Homo sapiens: one gene and its partner. The protein of the gene in region 1 interacts with the protein of each later gene in a biochemical or structural test. Each region holds a gene or a part of one and is shown in the gene's direction. Other genes may lie near its edges.

Evidence for each region. The genes of interacting proteins can lie anywhere in the genome.
Region 2: the proteins of NOSIP (region 1) and PPP2R2A form a complex in vitro, tested with the Homo sapiens proteins (one study listed by BioGRID).

The regions. Positions count from the first base shown.
Region 1 is NC_000019.10:49,556,272-49,560,280, reverse strand, and holds part of NOSIP (nitric oxide synthase-interacting protein), read left to right. Parts: intron 1-241; coding exon 242-347; intron 348-376; exon of another isoform or gene 377-846; intron 847-931; exon of another isoform or gene 932-1,302; coding exon 1,303-1,384; intron 1,385-3,031; coding exon 3,032-3,191; coding exon of another isoform or gene 3,192-3,200; intron 3,201-3,287; coding exon 3,288-3,406; intron 3,407-3,544; coding exon 3,545-3,732; intron 3,733-3,855; coding exon 3,856-3,964; intron 3,965-4,009. UniProt on the Homo sapiens protein: E3 ubiquitin-protein ligase that is essential for proper development of the forebrain, the eye, and the face. Catalyzes monoubiquitination of serine/threonine-protein phosphatase 2A (PP2A) catalytic subunit PPP2CA/PPP2CB.
Region 2 is NC_000008.11:26,350,508-26,354,007, forward strand, and holds part of PPP2R2A (serine/threonine-protein phosphatase 2A 55 kDa regulatory subunit B alpha isoform), read left to right. Parts: intron 1-3,500. UniProt on the Homo sapiens protein: Substrate-recognition subunit of protein phosphatase 2A (PP2A) that plays a key role in cell cycle by controlling mitosis entry and exit. Involved in chromosome clustering during late mitosis by mediating dephosphorylation of MKI67.

The DNA.
Region 1 (4,009 bases):
CCTCCACCAAGCTGCCACTCAGTGACCAGGCCTGTCTGCCTCTCACCCTCCAGGGTTGACAACTCCCTGTGGGTTCAGCCCGTGGCCCCAGCACACAGGCAGCGGCTCCCAACTGCCTGTTTCTCTCTGAGTCCCCCACCCCCACCACCGCGTTGTCTCTGTGCCTCTCTCTGGGGCTTTGGAGACGGACATGTCTCCTGTTGCTCCGCCCCTCCATCACTCTGCCCATCTCTGTCCCCAGCGGCCTCGGGCTATGGGACCCAGAACATTCGACTGAGCCGGGATGCCGTGAAGGACTTCGACTGCTGTTGTCTCTCCCTGCAGCCTTGCCACGATCCTGTTGTCACGTGAGCTGGGAACAGGGATGGGTAGGTCTGGGTGGGGAGAGCAAGGGAACCGCCAGGAGGAGGCTGTGTGCGTGGGTCTGGCCACCTGCACAGCCAGGGAACCCTGGATGAGCAGTTTATCCTCAGAGCCTCTGTATTCTCACATGGGACATGGGCATGATCCTAGCATCTGTTTCATAGTGTGGAACATATGGAAAGGAACATACTTCTAATGGGGTGTAGGGCTCTCAGAGCATTGCCGAGGCCATCGGAGCAGCTCACCTTTGGACACTTCCCATGACCTACCTCTGATGGTAGGGCAAAGGCTTAACAGGTGCTGAGTCCAGGCACTAAATACGTGCTCAATTAGTGGTATATTTTGTAGAAGACAGTAATTAATGATCAGGGCCCCCAAGGCCACCTTCAGGTTTCTTTTTTTTTTTTGAGACAGAGTCTTCACTTTGTTGCCCAGGCTGGAGTGCAATGGGGACATCTTGGCTCACTGATATCCCAGGCTCAGGTGATCCTCCTGCCTCAGCCCCCACGAGTAGCTGGAACCACGGGTGTGCACTACCACACCTGGCGTTTTTGTTTGTTTTTTGTAGAGAGGGGAGCTCACTTTGTTGCCCAGGCTGGTCTCGAACTCGTGGCTGCAACAATATGTGGCACACATTGTTGCTGAGAGAATGAAGCACTTTCCCTGCAGCTCTATTGGGAGAGGACAGCTGGAAGCTCAAATCTAGTCTCTACTAGATTCTGCCCCATGTGCCTTTTTCCTTTGCTGATTTTAATCTGCATCCTTTCACTGCAGTAAACTATCACCATGAGTATAACAGCTTTGCTGAGTTCTGTGAATTCTAGCAAATAATTGAACTTGGGACTGATCATGATGACTTCTGCCTATAATCCCAGCACTTCGGGAGGCCGAGGCGGGAGGATCACTTTCTTTCTTTCTCATTGCACCCTGTCTTTGCAGCCCAGATGGCTACCTGTATGAGCGTGAGGCCATCCTGGAGTACATTCTGCACCAGAAGAAGGAGATTGCCCGGCAGATGAAGGTGATGGGGATGGGGAGGAGGCGGCACACGGAGGCAGGAGCTTTTGAGTCTGAGCTCACAGGCAGAGCCACTCAGAGCCCTCTGATCTCAGTTCCCTCTGCCTGGTACACCATTCCCCTCCCCTGCTTCCGGCCAAATCCTTCTCACCGATTTCAGCCCAGATGCTGCCTCCTCTGAGCTCCTGCCAGTCCCCAGGATCTGCCCCAGTCACCTCTTCTCTTAGCACTTAGCATAGTTGTAGCTGTACATGTGGCTGTCTGACACATGCCCACTTTCCCTTATGGACTTCGAGTTTTCCCACCCTGTAGCTTAGGTCCTTAGTAAAGATATGCTAAATGGGTCGGGGGTGGTGGCTCACACCTGTAATCCCAGGACTTTGGGAGGCCGAGGCAGGCGGATCACTTGAGGTCAACAGTTAGAGGCCAGCCTGGCCAACATGGTGAAACCCTGTCTGTACTAAAAATAAAAAAATAAAAAAAAAAATTGAGCCGGGCATGGCGGGCGCCTGTAATCCCAGCTACTCAGGAAGCTGAGGCAGGAGAATCGCTTGAACCCATGAGGTAGAGGTCGCAGTGAGCTGAGATGGCACCGCTGCACTTCAGCCTGGGTAACCGAGCGAGATTCTGTTTCAAAAAAAAAAAAAAAAAAAAAGATGTGCTACGTGAATTGACATCACCTCATTTTTTCTGGGCCTCAGTTTCATCGTCTGTAAAACGGGCTGACGGCCAAATCAGAGGACACAGCAGGGCACCTGGGAGGTACACGCAGATGAGCATTCTCAAGGCGTGTTACTGGGAACCCGGCCTGGCCTTCCATGGACAAAGCCATTTGATGGGTAGGAGGGGCCCTGTTTGAGGCACAGTGGGTCTGTCCCCCTCTTCCCCTGCCTGGTTGCTGGCGCTCAGGAAACACTACAGGTCACATGCTTATTGGGCTTTTTGTCCCAAGCAGGTGGCTCCCCCTGTGCCCATGTCCTCCACACAGCCTGGTGGTCATGTCGGAGGCCCTCATGAGCATCCATCACTGTCACTGTTACCTCCTCACTCAGCTGGGTGGCCCAGGGTGGTCTGGAACTGCAGCACCGCCCAGGCAACTGCTGTGCGCCAGGCAGGGCTGAGCTCAGGTCATGGCTTCACTTCTCCCGTCCTCACTCACTGTCCGTCCATAGACATGGGCTCCTCAGCATTCCCTTAGATCTGAAGTCTACATCCCCCGTCCCAAACACGGGCTGGGGCATGCACTGTATAGAAAACTTAATTGGCCAGCAGGTGACATTAATTAAATGCTTAGCTGAGTGCCAGGTGAGGCTCTCCATGCTGTAAACACTCACCTTATGTAACCCTTCAGTGAGCCGCTGAGGTGGGTAACCACTGTTAGGCTGTTTTACAGATGAAGAAACTGAGGCCAGGAGAGGTCATAGTGCTCACTTAGGCCACAGAGTGACAGAGATGGGCTTTGAGCCCTGGCAGTCTGGCTATACAACGCAGTAAGGTTCACACCCACCCAGGGTGGCAGTTACCACCCTCTGCCACATAGTGCCTCCATCAGAGGGTCCCCTTTGTGGGCCTCAGTTTACCTACCTGTGAAATGGGAGGAAGATACCCCCAGCCCCACGGGCAGATGCTCAGCCCACTTTCCCCGACGCAGGCCTACGAGAAGCAGCGGGGCACCCGGCGCGAGGAGCAGAAGGAGCTTCAGCGGGCGGCCTCGCAGGACCATGTGCGGGGCTTCCTGGAGAAGGAGTCGGCTATCGTGAGCCGGCCCCTCAACCCTTTCACAGCCAAGGCCCTCTCGGGCACCAGCCCAGGTGACTCAGGTTGGGCTTCTTGTGGGTTGGGGGGCGGGGCGCCGCGGGCTGGGCGGGCCCAGGGGGCGGCATCTGAGTCCCTTCCTTCCCCCACAGATGATGTCCAACCTGGGCCCAGTGTGGGTCCTCCAAGTAAGGACAAGGACAAAGTGCTGCCCAGCTTCTGGATCCCGTCGCTGACGCCCGAAGCCAAGGCCACCAAGCTGGAGAAGCCGGTGAGCCCCCACAGCGCCCCGGCACGCACGGTGCCAGGGCGCCAGGGTTCCCCACCGTCCTCCTCACGCACAGGGACCACGCGCTCTCCACCTGCGCCAGCCCTGCCTACTGAGCCCGCCTCTCTCTGCCCCTTGCAGTCCCGCACGGTGACCTGCCCCATGTCAGGGAAGCCCCTGCGCATGTCGGACCTGACGCCCGTGCACTTCACACCGCTAGACAGCTCCGTGGACCGCGTGGGGCTCATCACCCGCAGCGAGCGCTACGTGTGTGCCGTGACCCGCGACAGCCTGAGCAACGCCACCCCCTGCGCTGTGCTGCGGCCCTCGTGAGTCACCTGGGAGGGGAGGGAAGGGACCACTCGGGAACCTGCGGGGCGGTCCGGCTTTGGGGCCAGTAGGTCCCCAGGAAGGCCCCTGATCAGAGTCTCCCGCCTTCGGCCTCACCGTAGTGGGGCTGTGGTCACCCTCGAATGCGTGGAGAAGCTGATTCGGAAGGACATGGTGGACCCTGTGACTGGAGACAAACTCACAGACCGCGACATCATCGTGCTGCAGCGGGTAAGAGTCCCACCCCTCCCCTTCCCCCAGCACTCCAAGGCCCCG
Region 2 (3,500 bases), on another chromosome or scaffold:
TTCCCACTTCAGCCTCCCCAGTAGCTGAGACTACAGGCGTGCACTGCAACACTTGACTAATTTTTTTTTTCTCTCTCTCTTTTTTTGGTAGGGATGGTCTCACTGTGTTGCTGATCTTGAACTCCTGACCTCAAGCAATCCTCTGTCTTGGCCTCCCAAAGTGTTGGATTACAGGCATGAGCTGCGACTCCTAGCCAGAGCTGCTTTTTATATGTTTATTGGCTATTTGGATGTTATCTTTTGGAAGTGACTATCGAAATCTCTTATAATTTTCTGTGTTGTGTGTCATTTTTCTTACTGATTTGTAGACTTTCTTTACACTTTTTGTAGATGAACTCTTTTTCAGTTACATTTGTTGGAGGATCCAGGGGCAGTGGCTCACGCCTGTAATCCTAGCACTTTGGGAGGCTGAATTGGTTGGATCACTTGAGCCCAGGAAATTGAGACCAGGCTGGGCAATATAGCAAGACCTCATCTTTTTTAAAAAACAAAACAAAACAAAACAAGAAAACCCACACATTTGTTAGAAGTATTTTTCATTCTGTGACTTGCCTTTTCATTTTTTTGAATAGTATATTTTTATAAATAGAGATTATTAATATAATACAGTTGATCAGTATTTTTCTTAGGGTTACTGGTTTTTCTGTCCTGTATAAGAAATACTTTTCAACCCCAAAATCCAGGGAAGACATTTCCGTTATCTTTTAGAACTGTATGACTGGTACTGTAGCTACTAGATCCATGTGGCTATTCAGATTAATGGGGAGTTGAGTCTGTTCTCTCTCCCCTAATGCAAGACCCTGTTGCAGTGGTCCCTGTCTCCATGGCCCTCTTTAAAGTCAGCCTTACTACCTTATAAATAAGTAAATAAATAAATTTAAATTATTAAAAATAAATTGTAGAATTAACTTCCTTAGTTGCAGTAGCCACATTTTAGGTGTTCAGTGTGTGCCTAGTGCTCAACATGACTAGTGGCAACCATACTGGACAACACAGATACAGACTATTTCCATCATTGCAGAAAAGTTCTCTTGGGTCCTGTTATCCTAAAACTTAATTATTGTACCTTCACATTTATATCTCTTATTCATCTGTAATCACTTTACGAGTGGTTTTGGGAAGGGGTCGAGCTTCATTTTATTTCCTATGAATAGTCAACCTAACACCATTTAGTGAAAAGACCATCCTTTCCCCATTGCCCAGCAAGGCAACCTTTGTCATCATTTAGGCCTGTTTCTGGGCCATCTGTTCTGTTTCATTGGCACATTGGTGTATCCTCATGCCAGTACACAGTCTTTATGACTTTGCTTTAAAACTTGGTTATGATGTCCTTTAGTGAATTCTGTTAGCATCTGTGTTGAAAATGTGTGATTTTGGTTTTGTGTCCTGTGTTTGTAATGTATGTAAAGTATGTGACATAGCTCATTCTAAATCCTGCTTTGAAAGTCTTTATTGAATGCCTGTTATATGTGCCAAGTACTGTTATAGGTGCTGGGGAATAAAGCACATCTAAACTTACTGTAGAAACTTTCATGCAAATAGATTGTATGGTTAGGAAGATGATTCTCATAGTGATCATAAAGGCAAGCAAGAAAAGAGAGGGAGGTGAAAATGCTGTGCAGGTAAAGCCAGTATGAATTGTTGAAGGATGTGTCACAATTCTGTATGACTGTAGGAGAGGTTTTTAAAACAAAAACATTGTGTTTGATTTTGATGCATTCTCATTTGAGTGGCTCAGTGTTGAGTATGCGGTTATGTGTCTTCTTATTCAGGCTTGCTCACTGTACTTTGTTTGTGCAGGGAACAATGCTATCATGATCATTATAATGTAAACATCCCCTCCCAAAGTGTTAGGAAAAGTCTGCTGCAGCTCCCTGTGGTCTACTGTCAGTTACCACTTGTACCCATCTGTTTTATAGCCTCTTCAGTTTTGTTACTGCTGCTGTCATTTCTGCCATTACTCTTTGTCCTGTGGACTTGTTTTTAAAAGTTCTGTTATGATCACTTTAATAAAGTTTCAGGAGAGAGGGGAGGCTAATGCATGTGCTCAGCCTGGCATCTTGAGCTTTTTAGACAGAATTTTCTCCTTTTGTGATACATTAATTTATTTCCTGTTGCAAAGAGATGGAGCTTCTTGCAGTCCACGAAACTGCCATATACCTCTATGATTTTGTTTTTGGATTCTGTAAGATACCATGTTTAGTAGACCTGTGTTGTTGTCCACGAGTCTACAGGAAGATGTTCATGTTTTGTTTCAGAAAATATTTCTGTTGTTTTGTGCTTTTCTTAACTCATCAAATACAATGTGTGGCTCGCCCTTGGCCCTTCATATTGCTTACCTTAATTGTGTAGACCATAACCAGTTTCTACTTTGACTAAAGTTTGACGTACACAAGTTACTTGAATGTGGGGATTCTGTCTATCCCTCTACGCCCTAGTGTACATAGTACTATATATTATAGTCTCTTTAAGTGTTAAATGAAAAACCAGTCTAAAATGCAGGATTTATATTAAAAATCGAGTTGCCTGCTTAATGGTATTGTGGTTTCCTTGTAGACTATAATGATAAATTTTGTGAGACTGGGTGAGTCATTTTAGGTAAAAGATTTGTGGAGCTTTAAAGTGATACTGGAGTATTTATATATGTTAATGGAATAGGCTGTCTAATTTTGTGTATGGGTATGGTGATGAGACCAAGGCTCTGAGTCTGATTTTTACCCCTTGTGTATCCCCGATATGTGGATCGTTTTGTGGGACATGTATTCTTAACATTGGCAGACTTGCCCTCTAATAACTGATAACTGCTGTCCAAGGGTTCAAATACAACCATCCATGAATGAACAACCCAGATCATCAGGCTGCTGGAAAAAACAACCCAAAACATAGACTTTCAAGATGATTCAGTGAAGTTTCCTTTTGATATGGAGAATAGTAATAGGCTGTTTTTATTATCAAGAAGTTCTAAACATTTCACTGGGTAACTCACTTTTACTTAAAATAGTTGACTGTCAATAATATCTCATTCTATTTTTTACTTAAACTTTTTCCATAGGTGGTTCTTTGAACTAGACTTTCAAATTTTTTTATGAAAATGTTTTTAATCGTGTGATAATAGGTCAAAAGATGAAATTCTGAACATGATTATAATTCTCACTTTTGCTGAGATATTAATGCTAACCAGAGTAGTTCAAAAGTAGTCCCTTTATGAGATAGCTTAAATTACATTTTTTCAAAGTGATACTAAATGAAATTAGTCATCAGTGTGTGCCAGGTTCATAAGATGAGAAAGCAAATTTAAGGCGAGTAAGCAGTTGTTGATGGGGGTGCATGGGGCCATTGCTGGGTAGTGCTGAATATGGACTTGATTGGTAGCAAAGCTGTCTGGAACAGTGGTCTTGGGGTGGGAGGTAGGGGTCAAATGGTATCCCTTCTTTTATAAGAGCTCTTTTTTTAAGCTTTCAGCAGCGAAATAACCAAAAGGCGGGCAGCAGAAAGGAAAA